Regions from separate parts of the Homo sapiens genome. Here region 1 is linked to region 2. The links come from fine-mapping of genetic effects on gene expression. A gene starts in region 2. The other region holds a variant in brackets. All regions are shown on one strand. Distances are between the middles of the regions.

The links.
Region 1: its variant is fine-mapped to the expression of FREM2-AS1 in skeletal muscle (FUSION, PIP 0.95).

The regions. Positions count from the first base shown.
Region 1 is chr13:38,867,157-38,871,565 of GRCh38, forward strand. The region is part of intron 16 of FREM2 (FRAS1 related extracellular matrix 2); the gene reads left to right. Among named protein-coding and RNA genes, the nearest start is that of FREM2-AS1, 42 kb to the left of the region's middle. The variant A/T (reference allele first, on the strand shown) is at 2,397.
Region 2 is chr13:38,825,184-38,829,592 of GRCh38, forward strand. FREM2-AS1 (FREM2 antisense RNA 1) reads right to left here and starts at 2,408. Exons shown (of 2, transcript NR_146963.1): 1 at 2,228-2,408. All of the region lies in intron 6 of FREM2 (FRAS1 related extracellular matrix 2), which reads left to right.

The sequences.
Region 1 (4,409 bases), 42 kb after region 2:
CAGTTAAGTTTTTCCTGCTAGAAAAGCTTATGTTCCATAATACTAGAAGAGAGTGCAATATAAGAATTACAACATAATTCAGTTCTTAATAGTCTGTGCTACTTTCTTAAGGAAGATGGCTAACTTGTATGAGTTCCTTCTGAAAGACTTCTGCTTTTGCATTGTTAAACATTAATAGCATAACCATCATGATCAATATCATAGTGATGACCAGATTCAGAGTAAATCATTGAGATTTTAGGATCTTGTTATAAAATTCTAAAATCCTTATTGTAAATTAAATGGTAATACAATTTAATAAAACATGTTGCTTACTCTCTTGAAGTGAAACTTAGAGATGTTGTGTTAGTCAGGGTTCTCCCCAGAGACAGAACCAATAGAATAGATAGATGAGAAGGGATTCCTTATGAGAATTAGCTCACGAGATCGTAGAGACTGAACAGTTCCATGGCAGGCCATCTGCAAGATGGAGAACCAGGGAAGCCAGTGGTGTGGCCCACTCCAAGAGGCCAAAGGCCTGAGAACCCAGGTTAAGTCCCCAAGTCTAAACACCAGAGAACTGGGAGTTCTGATATCCAAGGGCAGGAAAAGAAGAGTGTCCCAGCTCCGAGAAAGAGAGAGAGATAATTCACAACCACTCTTTGAGATAAGTACTATTTTTGTCCTTTTCTTTTCCTTTTTTGTCTATCTAGGCCTCAGCCAATTTGGTGGTGCCCACTTACATTGAGTGAGGATGGGTCTTCCTTACTCAGTCCACGGATTCAAATGCCAGTCTTTTCTGGAAACACTCTCATGGACACACCCAGAAATAATGCTTTACCCACTATCTGGGTATCCCTTAGTCTAGTAAAGCTGACACCTAAAATTAACCATCATAGATGGCGGTCCCATTTTCTTCTACCTTCTTCACTGAGGTTAAGTTTCTACTTTTCCCCTTGCTGTTGATAGTCTCCTACACCCTCACCTCAACATACACGCACATATTATTTACACATAGGTGAGGGAGAAGAAAATAAAAATTAAAGTAGAAGAAATTCAACCCTCTGAGATATTGCCCTAATTTTCCTCCATTAGTTTTGGCTTATAGTGAAGAGAACAAAATATCTAATAATAGTACTAACAATAACAGTAAGCACAATGATAGTTGTAATAGCTTACATTTATTGATTGTTTACTACATGCCTGCCATTCCTCTAAATACTTTGTATATTTCCACTCATTCTAGCCTCACAACAACCCTTTGAGATAAGTACAAGTTTTGAAGCAAAGAGAATTCAAATAACTAGCCCAGGTTCGTGTAGCTTGTACACCTATGCTGTTAAACACATCATAATGCTTATCTGGGCATTAAATTGAATGTGAGTGAATGTGAGAAATGGATATGGTCATGGATGCAATTGCAAGAAAGCCAGGTGAACTTTTTCCTTTGTCCTTGGTACAAGTATGCTGCCTGACAGCATTCATGAAAATACGTGCCAGATAACATCCACACCCACTGTTGGTAAAACGGTGCAAATCCATGTCCTAACAACAGTGGTCTACAGCTTCATCTGAATACAGGCAGATCAGTGTTGAATGCAAGCATATTTCATGAGATGGCACCTGAAGGAAAGCAAAGTAAATGCTTGGTAAATTCTACTTTATACTCTATTTTGGAATGTCATGAGAGCCTTCCAAACTTTTGCATTTCAGCATTAAGGATGGGAAAATGGAGAAAAATAAAAAGCAAACCATCAGCACAGACTCCATGTGCTTCAGAGGCTTCGTGGTTTTATTGACCACCCCAGGAAACAGCCCCTGCAGCAAGCCAGTGCTGACCCAGGTCTGTTTGTCCTCAACAATCCCACAGAGCCCAGGCCAAGCGCCTAGCAGACATTACTTGCCCTCCTCTAGTCCTTTCCCAAATTTGGCATCTCAGCTCAAGGTAATCACTGTGCAAACACATTTTATCAACTGGCAATTGCTTTTGCTAGGAACAACATGATAGAGAATTGATTTTTTAAATGTGTTCTTAGTAGCTAAAGCTACCACCATAAAATATTGCCAAGTCCCTGCATTTTTCTTTGTAAATGAAAATCAACACACTCTGTAAGGGTTTTCTGCCTTCTCCAACCTCCCAATTTCGATTATTTACCTTATTAGTTAACAGGATAGTTATCTGTTAACAGCAATGAAGTGTGATTAACTTTTATGCAGCTAGACTACATCTAGCTTCAGCTATTATTAAAACTATATCTGATTTTGCCATCTCATTTATTTGTACATTCATTCATTAAAGAAATATTCCATGAACACCTACTCTGTGCCAGGGAACATACCAAGTACTCATGAGGACACCAGACATGAAGCTTACGGAGGAACAAAGTCGTTACAAGAGTCAGATCATCACTCATAAA[A/T]GTTAAGAATTTTACTTGCCAAGAAAAACAAATTTGGAATTTCTCTAATGATATTTAACTCTAAAATCATTTTAATAGTTTCTAAAATATAAACACAGATAAATAGCAGGAAAAGCAAAATAGAGATGAATTAAATAAATGATTCCACTCTACCTTTGTGTGTGACACCTATTTTGTAAATAAAATTTAAAGTTGTTTGGGTTCACAATAAAAAACACTTTAGATGCAAAATGGTTATTAAAGTTAAATTAAGTTCTTAGAACTATCAGATAGTTTGGTAGTTTTTCTCTTGAAAACAATTTTTTAAAATAATTGAAGACTGCAGATCATTTGATCTTTTATTGTCCTGGCTAGCTGTTTTGCGACATAGAATCTTAACTCTCCCATTTGTTTACAGGTAAACAGCGACTGATAACATCGTTCAGTGTGCATGAATAAGCTACAGAAATGCAACCCCAATCACAGTTTTCACTTAAAACATGAAATTATAATGTACTTATCAGAAGACATAGAATAATTTTGGAAAAGTAAACAAATTTTTTTCTTAGTTGCTTTAGGGAATAATTATGCCTCTTTTTTACTATGTATTTGATTTAGATATATGAAACTTTGAGGCTGGAATATACTTGAGGTCATTTTTCCATCCCATTGTTTTATACTTTGTACACTGATACTCTTTTATATGTAAGCCACTCTCAATTATTTTGCAGGATATATACTTACCCCAGTGTGTAGCAGAATAAATTTGACAGTGTGTTACTTTTTCCATGGTATTTGCATTTTACACTTTCCTTTTAAATATGGAATTTAAAGTATTGCTTGCCTTTGATGAAGAAACTTCAAACAGCAATAGGGACATATGAAATCACTCATTGTGTCTCGGTTTCTTTAAGATTTGACAGATATTTATTTCAGTATAAACAAATACCTCGAAAAGTCCTGTGATACAGGCTGAAAGAAAATTAAGTGCTTTTTAAGTTGACATCTAAATGTTAGAATGATTGCATTGCACTCTTCACTTTTGAAGAAGGTAGGTGATCTAGATGGTCAAGATAGTTTCATTTAGGCTCCAGTTCCTCCAGGTAGAGATTCTAAGTAGACAGAAAGAAGACCTAGCCATGGGTACTAAGAAAATGCAATGGAATGCTGATTCTGTGTCCAAAAATGATCAAGCTCTAGTTTACCACAACATCAAATAAAATCAAATCAGAATTAGTTGGGGAGCTGTACTCCAAGTAACTTATTCATAGGAAGTGAGTATTAGTAATTCCCTCCAAAATAGCATACTCAGTAACATTTGATGGATAGAATATAACATTGGAAAAAATTATTCTTAGCACCTATAAAGCTTAATTGGAAATCTATTCCTAAAACCTAATTATTTTTTAAAATCATGGTTTATTAAAATTGTAAGGTAAAATATTAATCTTAAGGACTAGTGGCATATGGGTTGACTTAGTCACCGTCCATTTCCCTGCACTTCAAAATCAATTGCTCAATGAGGTAATAACAGCCGCCCATAGAAACTACTGTCTCAAAGGACTTTTAATGCAAAGCACCTCTCCTGCTGGCCAGGCTAGCAGGTAAGAGGGAATGCTAACTACTATACTATACAGCTAAGAATGAAATAACTGGTTTGGTTGATGGTTCTTTTCTATATATTTTTATTAGGGATTCAGGTCATCATTTTTGTGACATGAGCAGTTTACTTTTAACTTCATAAGAATGTTCTAAATTATAGTTCTCATGATTTAAATTATTTGCTAACTCATGCCTGTGATTCTTGTTGTGAGCTGTGTGGAAGGAGAACTAGACCATAATCAGACAGCCTGACTCAAACTTCTATGGAGTGTGATCTGACCTAAGTCCTTTCCTCTTGTGTAGAAGAGGCTAGTTGTATTTGTCCTACTATTGTGCAGAGCTATTTTGAGAATGAAATATGATAGCCTTTGTTAGATGACCTTAGGACTGCCTTCATCTTTGTTTGGAATACGATGAAGTAAGACAGAATAG
Region 2 (4,409 bases):
TGTTTGTTTTCGGTTTTAACTTCTAGACTAAGAACTCTTCGAAAACAAGGGCTGTGTCTTTATCATATCCCCAGTATGGAGCACAGTGCCTGATCCATAATAGGTGTTCAAAAAACAGATAATAAATTGGTGGTTAAATGTATGCAGGCAGGAGGGTTGGCCAGGACTACCTTTCTTGATATTCTTCCTATTACTTACTGTTTTTATAATATACAAAAAAATTAACCACAAAGAATAAAGCCTTATTTATTAAAAAAAAACCCACATGTAGTATATTCACAGAATATCAAACATCTAAGAACAAAACATGTGCTTTGTAGCTTACTTGAGTTTTCCTAGGTACGTCTCTGAAAAGCAGTGGTTAGCCTTCCACCTAAAGCCTGCAGTGAGGCATTGTCATTGCCCTAGAAAGCTCTGGCTGCTGCAGTTTATATTCAGCTATTAGAATGAAAATGCTGAACAGCTCCTTAGTGACATTACATGTATCTGAACACCAGTAGCCTTAAATTGGCATTTCCTTGTGTCAGCCATTTATTAAGCTGTCCAGTTCTATTACCCAGGCTCCTCTCTGAGCTACCTTTTACCCCCATCACTCACAGGCTCTGCCATGAGCATCACTCATATCACCCTGACTCAGGGCTGTGCTCCTTTCACTCTAGAAAGTGGCCTTGCTTTATTTTTAAATTGTATTTTAAAAATATATTAGACAGGTTTTTATTCTCTATAAATGAAAATACACGTTCAAATGATTAAACAAGTTGTTCTCTTTAAAGCCAAAATGTTATCTGATATAAGAAGTCATATAAAAATCATAATGCGTATGTTTACAGCTTCTTGGTTACTCTTTAAACACAAACCATCTTAAAGACAAGAATGGTTTTCTAACTCCTATTTTTCCTTGAGAGGAAGCACCTACTATCCTTCCAATAAAGACTGCAGGAAATAAGCATGAATCAATTGGATAAATGTTGAATGAGAGAAATAGCTGCCAACTAGTATCATATCAACAGGAAAAACACAAACGTCCCAGAAGGGCAAGAAGAATAGCTTGGACCTGAAAGCTTAGAGATCTGACTTCACGTAGATCAAATTGGATATTGCAGACCAGAAATACAAGAACCAAAGAAGTTGATTTCCCCAGTGTCGGGCATTTCGTAAGTGACTGAGAGGGGGAGTGGCACCCCTGGCTTGCAGAACAATGATTTTTTTTTCCACGTACAACAACGCAAGGAAGCAATGCAATAGCGTTGACTGCTAATATAGAGTAACACAAGGATAACCGAGGAAGAAGGATCTCACAATAAAGGAGCACATTCCTTCCAACTTGAAATGGAGTCGCTTTTGCTGTTTACTCTGGAGTCCCTTCCTGTGCTGCCTGCAGGCGTGTTCAGGTGTCAGTTGTCAAGCAGCCTGTGGTCAAGATTACTTATTGTTTGAGTGTCAATCACATGCTTTTATTCCTGAGACCTCACACAGATTGTGTTTGACACCATATTAATCGTCATCTTTCTTCATTCAGCTGTTGGAATTCCCAAATAAATCACCCTCATGTCACAGTCTCTGTTGATTTCAAAATCTTACTTATAAAATTTACTTTAGTTAGCAGGAATAAAATGTACATATGTGACTTCTGATTGGTGATTTTTGAAGCAGTGACAATTTTAAAGGTATGGAGAGTTTAAGCATAAAGTGACATCTCATTTTATTTCCCTCTTCCTAGAATCTTTTAATTAAGAAATTTATCCTCACAACTTAGGAATACTGATCTGTATAACATATTCTAATTTTCTCTTACGTAGAATATCATGTTCCTCCCTTTTTCTTTAATCAGATTCTCATTACACATCTTTTAAAGAAAATATTCTAAAAATCTAAACATCTAAAATGTTTACATGTCCAGACTCTTAACCATTTTCAGAAAAAGTACTATTTAATTTTTTTACAGTACAGATTTTGTATGTGAGTACCTTATGTTTGAATCCTCCTTATACCACATTCTAGTTGTGTGGCGTTGAGCAAGTTATTTAACCTCTCTGAGTCTTGACTTAATTTTATTTGTAAACAGCAGATAAAAATAATCACCTCTACAGCTGTTGTGAGCATTAAGACAATATAACAAGGTTTCTAGAGATCCTGGTGTCACTGGGGCAGGGGCAGTCAGTAAATGTAGCGATTATAATATTAATATTACATTAACTATGATGTTAAGTGGTGTGTTCTCACATACCTGATGAGATTTACATCCAAAATGATTACTTTTGAATAGAAACTTGGGAGGCAGTTGTCAGTCTTAGCTTATACCTCCACACTTGTTTTGATGACCTCCCATACACCAGACTGTATGTTTCTCATTGGAGTTTACAGACGAACAATAGGTGATTCCTGCCTTTGGGAAGCTTGAAGATGGATGTGTGGATAGATCACTGAAATAGGGCATAAAAATAATGGAAGAAGTGTGAGAAGGCAAGACTTTCTTGATAGCAGTAACTGTTAAGTAAGTTATATGTAAGAATGGAAAGACACAAACTTTGCAGGACCTCAGGACTGTGAGATGATGTTTTTGAAAGTGCAGTAACTACTCAGTTCCCTAGACAGCATAATCATCCACAACACTGTGAAATGCTATAGACAGTTGGTAGAGTTGAACCTGTTAAAGAGTAAAAATGTTTTAGAGAACTTAACGAAGAGGAGAGACTTTCTACTCTCTAATATTTTTGCCTAATATTCTGAGATTATGTTTAAAGGAGACAAGTTATACATGTTAATCTTTGTTTAGTAATAATATCTTTTATCACAAACTTATTACATGAGTACCAAGAAGGAGTCTTGTCATCTTCCTCACGGAAGCCACACCTCTCCCTTGAGGTCATTTAGTTTGATGCATCTTTCCATACATCCAATAACATGCACACATTTTTGTTTCATTTTAATTAGAGTAAATTATTGGTAAAGTGGCACAATATTCCAAAGGCAGGCTGTCTTACTTCCTTTTCAATTATTGGTTATTGATCTTGAATTTCTGGATCTCAGTTTTCTCATCTGTAAAATGAGGATGATAATAGTTTGTACCTCAAAGGTTGTTAGGAAGATTGAGTTAGTAGATAGATAAAGACAGAAATATATATAAAGTGCTTAGAACAGTTCAGGTACACTGAAAGTACTCAATAAATATTGGTTATTATTATTACATGATGATATATGTATTATCTTACGAAGTACTTATTTCACATAAGAATACATAATGGCCAGGCACAGGGTCTCACCCTATAATCCCATTTCTTTATGAAGCCGAGGTAGGAGGATCACTTGAGGCCAGGAGTTTGAGACCAGCCTGGGCAATATAGAGAGACCCCAGCTATACAAAAATAAAAAGTAAAATTAGCCTGGTATGGTGTTGTGTACCTGTAATCCTACCTTCTTAGGAGGCTGAGGCAGGAGGATCACTTGAGCCCAAAGATTCCAGTTTATAGTGAGCTATGATCTTGCCACTACACTGCAGACTGGGCAACAGAGAGAGAGAGACCATGTCTCTTAATAATAATAAATTAATTTAAAAAAAATTTTAAGAGACTATATTATGAAAAACTTTTCATGTCAATGCATATAAACCCAGCTCATTTTTAATGGTTATATAGTATTCCACAGTCTGGCTATAACATATTTAACAATCCCCTATGGATGGGCATTTAGACTGGTTTCAGATTTTTTTTCTAATCACATAAGTGCTGTAGTACATATCCTTTTTCACATATGCAGGGTGTCATTTATTTGCCTAGTCTCTATCATTACATTCAGTTTTAGATGTAACAAAATATATAATATGACAAGAAATTATCTGAGCCAAGCACTGCTATAAGCATGTTATATATATTCTCTCATTCAGTCCTTATAACAAATCCATGACACATATGCTGTCATAATCCCTAATTTTACAGGTGAAGAACTGAGACACACACATATTAGGTACCATGCCCAAAGCCATACTGCTAGAAAGTGATTCAGTAAGGGGTAGAACATAAGCAGTCTTAACAAAGCAAAGTTATTTAATTGAGAAAAGGCATCCATATTGGCATTCACTGTGCTATAGCCTATGATAGCTGGCTGTTGATAGTAAGAGTTTCTAACAGGTCTGTATCATATCCCGTAGTATGATGATATGGGCCTTCTCCAGAAATGAGGCCCTTTCAGCCTGTCATGGCAGAATAACCCTTTCCAAGATTCCTTTTAACATGATTTTGAAAGGAAATATATCAAACTTTTTCATTAACTATGGATAACTCAACTATTTATCATTATTTCTCATTTTTTGTCTTATACAAAAAGACAAACATTAATAGGAAAAAATACAAACACTATGATACATAAAATAGCATTTGGGGGCCTACTATGCTATTTGTAGTATAGTACAC